Regions from separate parts of the Homo sapiens genome. Here regions 1 and 2 are each reported to be linked to region 3. The links are microRNA targets in miRTarBase. Many come from high-throughput screens and were not tested one by one. Region 3 holds a microRNA gene; each other region holds the end of a gene's coding sequence.
The links. The annotated mature microRNA hsa-miR-3127-5p reads AUCAGGGCUUGUGGAAUGGGAAG and lies in region 3 at 1,746-1,768, shown strand. An mRNA with a match to its seed (bases 2 to 7 or 8) in the 3' UTR can be bound and repressed. Matches are read on the target gene's strand: a 7mer-m8 pairs with bases 2 to 8, a 7mer-A1 pairs with bases 2 to 7 and ends in A, and an 8mer does both.

Region 1: the mRNA of CREB3L2 is a reported target of hsa-miR-3127-5p. The part of its 3' UTR that is shown has no 7-base or 8-base seed match.
Region 2: the mRNA of CTDSPL2 is a reported target of hsa-miR-3127-5p. The part of its 3' UTR that is shown has no 7-base or 8-base seed match.

What each region holds. Positions count from the first base shown.
Region 1 is chr7:137,876,869-137,881,060 of GRCh38, forward strand. CREB3L2 (cAMP responsive element binding protein 3 like 2) reads right to left here. Exons shown (of 12, transcript NM_194071.4): 12 at 1-3,683. The coding sequence ends at 3,608. Among named protein-coding and RNA genes, the nearest start is that of DGKI, 32 kb to the left of the region's middle. RefSeq lists enhancers at 1,765-2,496, 2,497-3,230 and a silencer at 2,455-2,749.
Region 2 is chr15:44,523,341-44,527,532 of GRCh38, forward strand. CTDSPL2 (CTD small phosphatase like 2) reads left to right here. Exons shown (of 13, transcript NM_016396.3): 13 at 769-4,192. The coding sequence ends at 834. Among named protein-coding and RNA genes, the nearest start is that of EIF3J-DT, 11 kb to the right of the region's middle.
Region 3 is chr2:96,796,543-96,800,734 of GRCh38, forward strand. MIR3127 (microRNA 3127) reads left to right here and starts at 1,736; the gene lies at 1,736-1,811. CNNM4 (cyclin and CBS domain divalent metal cation transport mediator 4) reads left to right here. Exons shown (of 7, transcript NM_020184.4): 2 at 470-613; 3 at 971-1,105; 4 at 2,515-2,684; 5 at 3,010-3,106. RefSeq lists an enhancer at 4,169-4,192.

The sequences.
Region 1 (4,192 bases), not on the chromosome of region 3:
GGTTGGCATGAATGGGCCATTATTCAACTGGGGGTGGGATGTCTCCATTTCTGGACTGTGCTCAAATTCACACCTTGTATGACATGTGGGCAGAGGAGCTGGCCTGGAGAGGCCTCTAATTCTGCCTCTACGCTTTTGCTGGGTCTGAGGACATGGGAGGGAGGAGCCATAAAATGCTGGAGAACAATTTTAAAAAACACTTATGAAAAAATGCTGGACACTTGACTCACTGCCAGAACAAAGAAGAGCCAATTCAACATCCCAACTTTACGGGCACGTAAGATTCACAAGCTGAACCAAGAGATTTAGGAAGAAAAAAAAAAACATGGTAATTATAAGGGGTCTGTGAATAAGTTAAACTAAAAGCTGCTTTCACAATCTACAAATTAGGCCTCCAAATCAAAATCATTTATATTAACCAAAAGGTTATCTAATTTTGCCCATATTGGTGTCAAATCTCATCCCCACTCCCTGCCAAAAAAGAGCAACCTAGTTCAGCTGTCGGATTTTTATATAACACTCTCTTTATGTGAGCTAGACTCCAGAGTCCTCACACTTCACAGAAATTCTTTCTTAAAACTGGCACTGCAGCCTTTCATTTACAATATCCCTTTTTAAGTGCAAAGTCGAGGGCTGTGAAAAGAACCACGGTGGGGGGTCTGGGTTACTCAGGTCTTATCCAGTGAAAAATTAGTTCTCTGAATCTTTGCAAAACATCTCCTTCACTGGTGCAATCTAAGAAAGGGAAATGGGAAACTTGTTTACATGATGAAAAATATAATTAAGAGATTGACTCTTTATGGCTTATGGCCGCTCTGACAGACTCGTATTTCTCAAAACTTACATTCAGAAGACACTGTCTGCCACTATTTGAAATCTTTAGAGCTAATCATAAGTTAATGACTAGTCTAAGAGGCCACTTGGTGGGGAAAACAAATCCACTGATATTCTGGTCTTAATCCCTGAACAGAAAATGTGCACACATCCATTAACTATTTGGAACCAATCTGGTGCTATACAACTCTTCTGTGTCCTCTTGACCCCATTTTGTCCTCCTAAAGGGACAACTGTTAGTTCCTTTAACCCACTCAAGCAAGGAGTGGAGGGCAGAGGTTTATCTAAAAGAGCAGTGATGTTGGTTCTTGGAGCCCCCTTAAAAGGGCCATCTGAGCTCTCTGCCTAACGTCCCATTGTCTACATAGATTCCGTTTTGGAAGGATGGTTTCCCAGAGAAAGAGTCCTGCTGTTTGGAGGTCGAGAGAGAGTGACGTCAAGCAAGCGTAGTAAGGGAGAAAATAAAATCCTCAAAGCACTAAGGACAGGGGCTAGAAGTTTCCTTTATCTTCTCCCTCCTCATTTAGAAGAGCACGTTTCCTACTCTACGTCTGGGAGCCTTGAAAACCCAGTCTGGTTCAGTTGCAGCAGGTACATGGGTTGGCTCATTCTCTCACTTCTGCCCCTAAATTTGAAACCTTTCCTTCCTCATTGCCCAAATGCTACTTGAGTAAATCTTATCTTTTTGCCTTCTTTGGGCCCTATAGGCTGCCTATGCCTGATAATGACCTGACAGTTTAAAAGAGAGGGATGGGTCAGTGGAGGCCCATGGTTACCAGACACCAGCCAGGCCCAACAGGATCTGGGCTGCAGACAGTGGAGCAGAGAGAAGCAGAAGCAGAACCTACTAGCAACCCTCCTCCTGCACAGCTCAGACAGTCTCCGCCCTGGCTAATGGGAGGGACAACAAGAACCCTCCAGACAACAGGGCTGCCAGGACTACGGGGGCCCGATCCAGCTTCCACTCACAGTGAGAAGATGAACTTGGCCGCTTTCCAGGCTGGAACCGTCTCCAGCATAGCAGAGAGAGGGGAATCACTCACAGGGAGCCCCAAATGGGCCTAGACAGACAAGGCAGGGACCGACTTATGAGGTATGACGACAAATGTTAATAACATCAAATCCTGTACCTGATATGGAATGGAAGCCAGGGTGTGGGCTTAATCCCTCTAAGTACAGGCTCCAATAACAATGCAGATGACGTGTGTGGGGGTGGGTGGTGGGGGGAGAGAGAGAAGGAGAGACAGAGAGAGAGAGGGAGAGAGAGAAGCCAAAACCAAAGGCATTTCAGCTGCTAATAAAAATAAAATACAAACTCTATGCACATTTCCTACACAAAATCTTTCCCAAGCTCGGAAAAAACACTTGAGGGTTTTCTACATTACACAATAAAAAGGCAATTTCCACTTCTTATTTATATGAAAGAGGAAAGATTTTTTTAAACTACAAAAGTTACTTTTAACCATAAAAAAAAAACAAAAAAACTAAAAGTAGGTTGGGGATTAGGTTGTATCTCTTTGGGCGAGCTGCAAAGTAGCCAAACCTGACTACCAAAGGTAAGAATGTGGATACACAAATGTCACCTACCCCACCCTGCTTTGTTGAGGTAGGGGACGAGGAGGACAAAGTGGAAGTGTGGAGGGAGGAGGGGGCCAGGCAGGTGTGGAAAGCCAGCAAGGTTGTCTGAAATGTCTGTTGTCAGAACAGGGCTTCCCCTTCTCTGTCATGAAAACAGGATAGAAAAAGCTTGTGGCCAGGGAGCCCGGGGCCTGAGTGAGGCATTGTGTCATCTCTCGCTCTGAGCTCATCCTAGAGGCAGACACATACATGCTCAAAGGAACTTCTTTTTCAATGGTAATTATTCCAGTTAAAAGAAAAAACAAAGGAAAGGAAACAAAACATTGTCTGGAAAGACACGGGATCCCAGAGCCTAGGGTGCCCTCCTAGCTCTGAAGGCTCGCAGAAAACTTGGCTAGCTTGAAAGGAGGCATCGATCTCTTCAGTGTGGTTGCTAGCAGGAAGCCTCGGCAAGCTAATAAATACTATTTACAACTGGGGAGGAGAAGCTGGGGAGGCAGAACTATGGATGTGTGGGGAACCAGGTTGTGGGAGGTCCTAAAAGCGACAAGATGGGGCAGGTTTGCCTGGAGTAGAAAAGCCTGATCCCCTCAGGCATTGCACTTGCGGCCTGAGAATATGAACGAGAGCCCTCGCCTGCCAGTGCTGCTGCAGGAGACGAGACGATCCAGCGAGGGCTCCCAGGGGGCAGAGTGGGCGGAGGGCTGCTGTCGGGGGTGTTCACACCAGAGACCCCAGTGCGAGCAACGGAGGACACGGGTCAGTGCTTTGCCAAATACCAACAGGCATTATGGCATTTTTGTGGCCAGAGTCTGGGGTCTTGACTGAACAAGAGCCATCTCGTCTCCAAAGCGGGGGGTTACACCTCACAGGTGCACATTAGGCAATATCTTTTTGGCACTATTGGTGGAAACAAGCCTGCTTGTCCCACCTCCAACCCCTAAAATAATTTCCTATGGCAGTAAGAGAAAGGAAGGGAGGGATGCAGGCTCCCTTCTGCACAGGAGGGGCATGGACCAGGGGGAGATGCTCTCTCACTGCAGGGAAGTCCCAGGCTGGTCTCCAATCTGAAGCCACTAATGCTTGCCCATGTCTCCATGAAGATCCAGTGGCAAAGAGGAAAAGCTGATGACAAAGGTGGTTTGGGGATGTAAAAGTAGAGTTAAGGGAAAGGGAGGGGGTGCAGGCAGCCTCTTTAGAAAGTGGTGTTCACTCTTCTGTCGAGTTCTACAACTTTTAGTGTTTCATTCCCCTCCAGTTTGGCGCTGACCCTGTGAAGGCATTAAAAGGAAAACGAAGTATTAGTCACCAGCTGTTAGCTACAATTCTCATGCTTTGTAGCGTGATGCAATCATTCAGGGGTTGCAACTTGGTGAGACGGCCTGGGCATGTTTCTTGTCCTTTTCTCTCCTAGTAGCAATTCTCTGTTTCCAAAGTCCCCTGCTACCAGCCTCTCCACTAGTCCACATTCCTACCTTTATCTACACCCAAGGCATCCCAACCCTACTAAGGATAATCATGGTGGCTTGATATTGATCTGCTATGAGATGCATTAAATTATTCTATTTACTTAGGATGTTTAGCCCTATGCTAAACTCAGGGAAGGAGAAAATAAAATGATAAGAGCTGATCCTTGGCCTAGAAGAGCTAATAATCCAGATAAAGATTTTTAACAATGAGCTAATTTGAAATAATAATAAATCCATAACAGAAAATAAATACATTATTAAATTGTGTAACAACCTGGAAAATTTCTAGGCATTCAGAGGAGGGCTAGGAG
Region 2 (4,192 bases), not on the chromosome of region 3:
GGCCAGGAGTTTGAGACTAGCCAGGGCAACATAGTGAGACCTCATCTCTACATACATACATACATACATACATACATACATACATACATACATACATACATACATAAGCAAGCAAGCTTGCTGGGCATTGTGGTGTGTGCCTATAATTCCAGCTACACAGGAGGCTGAGGTGGGAGGATTGCTTGAGCCCAGAAGTTTGAGGCTCCAGTGAACCAGGATTGTGCCACTGCATTCCAGCCTGGGTGAAAGAGCAAGACCCTGTCATTCATTCATTCATTCGTTCATTTATAAATAAACAAACAAACAAATCTTCTTGGGAGGCCAAGGTGGGCAGATAACCTGAGGTCAGGAGTTCAAGACCAGCCTGGCCAACATGGTGAAACCTTGCCTCTACAAAAATTACAAAAAATTAGCCAGGCATGGTGGTGGGCGTCTGTAGTCCCAGCTACTTTGGAGGCTGAGGCACAAGAATCGCTTGAACCCAGGAGGCAGAAGTTGCAGTGAGCTGAGATTGTGCCATTGCACTCCAGCCTGAGCAACAGAGCAAGACTCTGTCTGAAAAAACAAAAATTTAAAAAAGAAATCTTCAACGAAATTCTTTTCAAAATCTTAAATTTAACTGCATCTGTGTAGTATCTCTATTTGGCAAATAAAATATGTCATAAAATAAAAACTGGTATGTTTTCTCTGCAAGGTAAGAATGTATGTTATGAGGATCATATCTTTGAAATTTTATGCCTTTTTAAAAATTGTCTTTTTTCCACGCAGAATGAAGATGTTCGACCACACATCAGAGACAGATTTCGCTTGCATGATTTGCTGCCCCCAGATTAAGTACAAAGACTTGTCAAATCACTGAAGGGGGAGAGAATGCAGGACCCTTTTGGACTAAGACAAAAACATTGCCATTACTGTTGAAATTTTGCATTTTTGTACCCCGTCTTGCTTTTCTTATCTTTGGTGCCCAATAATAATTAAGGGTTACAGAAAGAGACTTTATCTATCTCAGATCGAATACATATAGTAGGTAGGCTAAAACAGAAGAGTCTTTAGAACTAGTGCAACTCCAGTGAAATTTTTTATGTACAGGACATCTGCAGTTTATAAAGAATTCTGTTTCTGCCACCAGCAGTTTGACCTGTAGTCACACAGGATTTTATGATAATAACAGAGATGAAAATGGACTTTTATTTTCTCTCTGTTTGGTGCTCTAAGTGGGTTTGTAGCCACTTTTCTGTTACTTTATGATTCTCATTTCAACAGGAATGGCCAGTAAAAGTTGTTTTATTTTTCCTGTTAAGGTTTATAACCTTTTTACATTTTTGACCTGTATTAGATTAGAATTTCATTATGCATTCCTTTTAGTTGAGGCGCTTCATAGTTTTCTGGAGATAGTCAATTTTTAGTTTTTTATTATACATTTGAATGGCCGTTTTCCTGCTTTGTCTGCCTGCACATTGTATATTTGTTTAAAAATATTCTCTACTTTTAGTCTATGTAAGTTTCATTTAGAAAGACATGCATTTATATTTTGTTTCTGTAATATTCTACTGTAGGTGAAATCTTTTCAAAAATCAAGAGACTGGGTAGATAAGAATATATGAATGACTAATATACAAAAGATTTAAACCATTGTGATGGCGTATATTCTCAAATGGTAATATCTTGCAATGGCACACAGATTTAATGGATAAAGGTATACCTCAGACTTCACTGTGCTCACAAATCTTTGAGGAGAAAGTTTGGTCACCTGTTTGGCTTGATTTAGTTACTGCTGCCTTTGGTTTTCTCCAGGAATGAAGTATTCAGCACAGTGACTCAGTATTTTTAGTTATTTTGCATGGGCTGGTAGTACCTCTGTTATGCTCTCAGTTACAATCAATTTAAAACTGTATAACAGTCTTGGTACCTAACAGTAGCTATGCATAATCCTGTGGCACAGTACACTCCCAAGCCACCAATGCAGTTAATATGCTCTCATAGTGGTTTTTCTATGCTATATGAAAATAGTCTTCAAGCCTTGGTTCTCTAATGCAGCTACCACAAGAGGTTGATATTTTTATAGTGGCGTGTAATCTCCTTTTCGGGAGGCTTTTTATGGAAGGTAGAATTTGTAAAAGTTCGTATGCTTTGCCTCTCAACTGCATTAACATGCCACAGGCTCAGACTGTTTTTGTGTAAAGGATGTCAAAGAACGGCACTTTTTCTAAAGAGAAGTTTGATATTTTGTATGCTTGTTAAGAAAGTACAGTATTGGAAATTAAAGGTGGACAACTGATAATTGAGGAGTATGTCAATTAATTTTTTATGTATATTACCTGTTTACTTGTACAACTTACTGTACAAATTACATGCAGCTTCATTTTCAAATGAATCCTTAAAATAAGGAAATCTTTTTAGGAAAACATTTAATTTTTGTATTTTTGATTTTAAAGGCATGAGTTATGTCAATTTTCAGTGTATTAATGAAGATTTTAACTTTTCATCAGGTTGAGTGTTTTCTTACTATATTATCTGTTGTGTATGTAGTTAGCATATTGTGTCACTGAACTGTTTAAAAATCTAGCATGTAGAGCAAGCCTGTTTTGTGGAAAATCCTTATTCATTAAAAAAATAATCATGGCAGATTTTCTGCAAAAAAAAAACAAAAGCATTTGCAATTCAGAATACTGATTTTTTTAATTTTATTTAAAGAAAGGTATTTTGCTTGCAGGAAAAAAATACTACAGATTCATTTTAATGAGAATCTTTGAAATGTATTTATCTTTAGGGCATCTGGGCATCTTTATGCTGTTTGTCTTCTGTCTTTCTTGAAATAAAATGTACATACGTTACCTTTACATATGCTCTTGCTCAAAATTGTGAACCTAGTTACATTTCTCCCTGCTCCCTTCCTTTTTATGCTCAAACAGCGAAACCCAAAACTTAAAAGATCTGAACTTTCAGCATGCATTCTGATTGCTGAAAGATTTCCTGATTTAGTGCATTCTCAAAAGGGCTTTCCCATAATCTAAAGGGAAATGTAAGCACCTATACTCTTGTGCCTGTGGGCACTTCAATAATAAAAACCAACTTTTTAAACTAATCATCTTTTATCAATGATAAAGTTGTTTTCAGTCCCACACTAGGAGAGTTCCTTTAAGTCAGCTGATCAAGCATAAGATACTTCCGTAAAGAAATAAACTAAGAAAATTTTTTATGGCTTGAGAAAATTCCTTGAGGCCAAATTAATATATTTTTCTTTGTTATTTTATTTGAGTCATTTTAAATTTGTTAATACAAAATTTAAGATAATTTACAGAGACAATTTATCCAGCTTCCTTCTACCTTAATACAATGTTTTGTCTTCCCATTATCCTCTCTTTTCTTTATCTGTTGGTAGATGTAAAAAACTTCCATTTAGTTAATCGGAGGTGTGTATTTTTTAAATTGAAATGTGCCCAGCCCCTTCAGCTCACACAGGAAACATGAACTCTTAAAAAACTGACTAGTAAATGCAGGAGAGGTGGATACCTGATGAGACACAGCGAAAGTGACCTGTATACACATTACAACTCTGGAGTACATATTAAAGTCGTGCTATTTCCAGTGGTAAATGTCTGACTTTTAAGACATTCTTTTAAATATTTGTATCATTGTTAGGATGTTTTAATCAGTTGTTTTTTAATTCCATGTAATATATGTAGCCCTCATCAGATTTATATCACCATATTTCTCCTTGTGTCCTAAGAGAATTGATGACAATTCGTAACCATAAATTGTTTTATATTAGCTAGTATGTATATTTATTTTTACCCAATGGCTTTATCTGTTTCCCAAAATTTGTTTGGGATTTGTTGAAAGCATTGTGTAACTTCTATAAACGGCTATTTTCTTGTAACTGTCAGTGAAATGAATGTGTACATTGTTTTCTTGTATTTCTCTGGGTTGTTTTTTGTTTTTTTTTCCAAGGGTTAACATAGAATGTTTTTTTTAAAAAATTATCTTTGGCCAATGACTTTTTCATCTAGATCTTACTTTCATTCAACCTTCTAAAGAAGTTCGTTTCTCATTGTTTTGTTCTGTCAACTTGCCTGAAAAACAGAGACTTCATCTCATCAATGAAGAAAGCATTTCATTATTCCTACAGATCTTTCCTGCGAGCACAGAATTCTTCATAAGGACCAGATCTCTTCCATGTCTGTGTCAATCA
Region 3 (4,192 bases):
CTTGAGCCCAGGAGTTTGAGACCAGCTTGAGCAACATAGCGAGATCCATCTCTACAAAAAATAAAAGAGTTAGCCAGGCATGGTGGAGCACACCTGTGGTCTCAGCTACTCGGGAGGCTGAGGTGGGAGGATCTCTTGAGCCCAGAAGTTGGCGGCTGCAGTGAGCTATGATTGCGCCACTGCACTCCAGCCTGGGTAACAGAGCTAGACCCTGTCCTTCCTCCACAAAAACAGAGAAAAACAAAAAAGTGGTCCTTAACGACATGCTTTTAAAAATTACTTTTAGTTTTCCTTTTCATAAAAGCAATGTCTGTTTGCAGTAGAAACGTCAGGAAAGATGGAAAAGATAAAAACCACCATGACCCCATCCTGGTGACTTATGACCCTACGTCTAGAGTTAATGTTTTGGTTGAGGGAGTCTCATGACTGGCCTCTGGGCTCTTGTCTGACTTGCTGCATTGTCCCACAGGGAAGTCCCACCTGGCCATCGTGCAGAAGGTAAACAACGAGGGTGAGGGTGACCCCTTCTACGAGGTCCTGGGCCTGGTCACCCTGGAGGACGTGATCGAGGAGATCATCAAGTCGGAGATCCTGGACGAGTCCGACATGTACAGTGAGTCCAGCCTTCCACAGGGCCCAGGACCCCTTTCCTGCTTGGATCGAAACTTGGTGTCCCTAGCTGGAAGGGCCATAGTGCAGGGACACAGGAGGCCTAGCATCCAGAGGCCCAGTGGCTGGGTGCCCTGCACTGGCCGGGGTGAGCAGGGAGCAGGTTGCTGAGAGCAGTGCCCGGAGGCTGCCTTCACCCTCGGCCTTTGTGCCTCGGCGTCAGCCCAGGACCCTGCCAGCCAGAGCCTGCTGCTCCTGCGTGGGACTAGGGGCTGGAGAGCAGGAGCTGCGGGGCGGGTTCCAGTCTCTTCCTAAGTCCTCAGGGGTCTGTGTTCTCAATTCCACGCTCTTCTTCCGGCAGCTGACAACCGAAGCCGGAAGCGGGTGTCTGAGAAGAACAAGCGTGACTTCTCTGCCTTCAAGGATGCGGACAATGAGCTCAAAGTGAAAATCTCCCCGCAGCTCCTCCTGGCCGCTCATCGCTTCCTAGCCACAGGTAGCATGAGGAGGACCTTCCGGTCTTGGTGGAAATACGGTCACGGGGGAGAAGTCCTGGGTTTCCGGCTGCTTTCCCCCCATAGGACGAGGGCTGCAGCAGGTGAGGGGTGCAGAGACAACACAGCCACCCCTGGAAGGGGCCGGGTATCTGCTCCACCCCTGGGGATCTCCCTGCGATTCATTTGCCATTAATGGGCGGCTACTGCAAACTTCTAGGAAGCATCCAAGTTACTATATTTAATAGTTTGGGAAATAATGACTAGGCACTATGGCTTATACCTGTAATCCCAGCACTTTGGGAGGCCGAGGCAGGAGGATTGCATGAGCCCAGGAGTTCGAGACCAGCCTGAGCAACATGGCGAGACCCCATCTCTACAAAAAATACAAAAGCCAGGCATGGTGGTGCCCTCCTGTAGTCCCAGCTACTTGGGAGGCTATGAGGTGGGACAGTTGCATGTCTGTGGTCCCAGCTACTCAGGAGGCTGATGTGGGAGGACCGCTTGAGCCCAGGAGTTTGAAGCTGCAGTAAGTTGTGAATGCACCACTGCACTCAGCCTGGGCCACAGAACAAGATTCTGTCTCAAAAATAACAAAAAAGAAAATAACCACTGAGGTGGGCCCCTAGGCTGGCCAGGCCCATCAGGGCTTGTGGAATGGGAAGGAGAAGGGACGCTTCCCCTTCTGCAGGCCTGCTGGGTGTGGCTGGACCCCTCGTGTGCTCACCCACTCTGAGGAGCTTGCATCCAGCTCTGCTCTTACTCTCCAGCTCTCCCCTTTGCAGACGTGTGCTGGTTCCCGCAGGAATTCACTTCTAGTTCAGAGACATTTCTCTCTTTTCAGCCCTGATTCAAAGCTCCACTGGGGACTTGGGTGACAGGTTCTGCTCTGCCCGCTCTGTCCCCCTCTTCCCCTGGCCCAATTCATCTTCCTTCCCACCCCTTACTTGCTAAAGGGGTGGCAATTCCCTCTCCATTATTTTTCCTGTGGGATATTGATGCTGATGCAATAATTATAGTCTATATATTTTAGTATATATGGACAGCACATATATACTAAGTGCTGTCCATGTGCTATCCCATTCACCCTCACAACCACCCTGTGAAGCTTTTACCCCCATATTACAGATGAGGAAACTGAGATGCAGGTTAAGTAATTTGCCCAAGGTCATGTGCTGTTCTTGCAGGAGCCACTGTTCAAGCCCAGGCAGGCAGGCAGCCTTGTATCCAACCAGTCAGAAGCCAAGCGTGCTCCCTCCCCAGGGAGGTGCAGAACGAGGGCCGGCCGAGCAGGGCGGGAGTCGTCTGAGCACAGCGTGGCTGCTGTGGTTGGGGTGGAGGCACAGCAGTGATCGAGCTTTAGGGCCACCTGGCCAGCCCCGTGTGAGGTCTCTTCTCTCTCCTCCTACAGAGGTCTCTCAGTTTAGCCCCTCCCTGATATCAGAGAAGATCCTGCTGCGGCTACTCAAGTACCCAGATGTCATTCAGGAACTCAAGTTTGACGAGCACAATAAGTACTACGCCCGCCATTACCTGTACACCCGAAATAAGCCGGCCGACTACTTCATCCTCATCCTGCAGGTGAGCCCGCTCAGCCCTGGGCCTGCCACCTGCTCCCCCTGGCACTGCAGCAACCCCCAGGCCCTCTCTCCCACCTGCTGCGGAGGTGCATGGCTTCCCTGCCTGGGGAGCCTGCTGCCTGCCCTTGAGCCCCGCCTGCCCCACGTGGCCATCCTCTCCCTGAGAGGCCACTCTTGATCTCACAGGTCAGGCCCCTGAGCTCTCCAGGGCTCCAGTACCGGCCCTTCCTCCTGCCCCACTGTCCCTTGTTCCTCACTCCCCATCCTGCCTCATCCTTTGTTTCCTCCCTCACTTGGTCTCTAACTCCAGCCCTGTGTTTTTTCAGGGGAAGGTGGAGGTGGAGGCAGGGAAGGAGAACATGAAGTTTGAGACGGGCGCCTTCTCCTACTATGGGACTATGGCCCTGACCTCGGTCCCCTCCGGTGAGTTGTTGGGCATGGTCTTTGCTGCCCTTTGGCCCCCCTGCAGCTGGGGAGCCATGGACCGACACCAGAACTGAGCATGGGCCCGAGAGCTCATAGCCAGCTGGCTGGGGCAGAGGGAGGCTGGTGAGGCGGGAGCCGCCAGGGCCTGGAGCGGGTGGTGTGGAAGAGCAGAGGGAGCTGCCACTTTGGATGGGGTCCAGAAGCTGGAGGGGAAAAGAGGAGTGAGGGATTTTAGAGTAAAGGCCTGGAGGCAGCGGAGGGCATGTCCAGAGGTTGTGAGGAGACCAGCCTGCTTGGAGAGGAGGCCTGTGGGGAGGAAGGCCCAGGGCCCTGCTCCTGAGGACAGGAGGGGAGTCTGAGCATCCAAAGTGACTGGGGTCAGGAGCCAGGCCAGGGCCTGTTTGCCAGGGCAGGCTGCAGATGGGTTTGGCTTTTCGGAGGACGCGGCTACTGGGTTTTGGTTAGAGGTCAGCTCCGATGGAATAAAGGGCCTTGGGGACAGACAGAAGGGAGACTGGGCACCCTCCGAGAGGTGTTATGGAAGGTCCGGGGATGCGCCACTCTGGCCGCCCCAGTGCCCTCTCCTGTGCTGAGTGGCTCAGGCTTTCCCCGCAGAGCCCCACAGACAAGGCCCCGCAGGCCCAGGTCTCGCCAGCTCATCTCCTCGCTCCTCTCCAGGCTTCGGTCCTGGGGCGAGGTTGCTGCAGGGTAGAGAGAGAAAGTCCACTTTGGTGCTGGAGAACAGGCCACGCCAGTGGGGTACGAGCTGCAGCTCCCAGAGAACCTCTGTGCTGTGCCTCTCACTGTCCTTTGACAAAAAGGACCCCGAGGGGGAACGGGGGTAGGGCACCCATGAATACTGACACCCAGCTTGGCTTATCCACCATGTCCTCGGCCCCTCCACCAGATGAGTGGGGCATGGCAGGCTCCCTGGGCAGGGGACAGACAGGGCCCCAGAGCGGGGCTCTGAGCAGGTTAACCCTATCAGATGCCTCAGGCCTGGGGATGACTTCCTGTGCCTCCAAGAGCAGCTGTTCTCTGTTCAGTTTGAGGAAATCTCATTCAGAAGGGCGGGCAGGCACG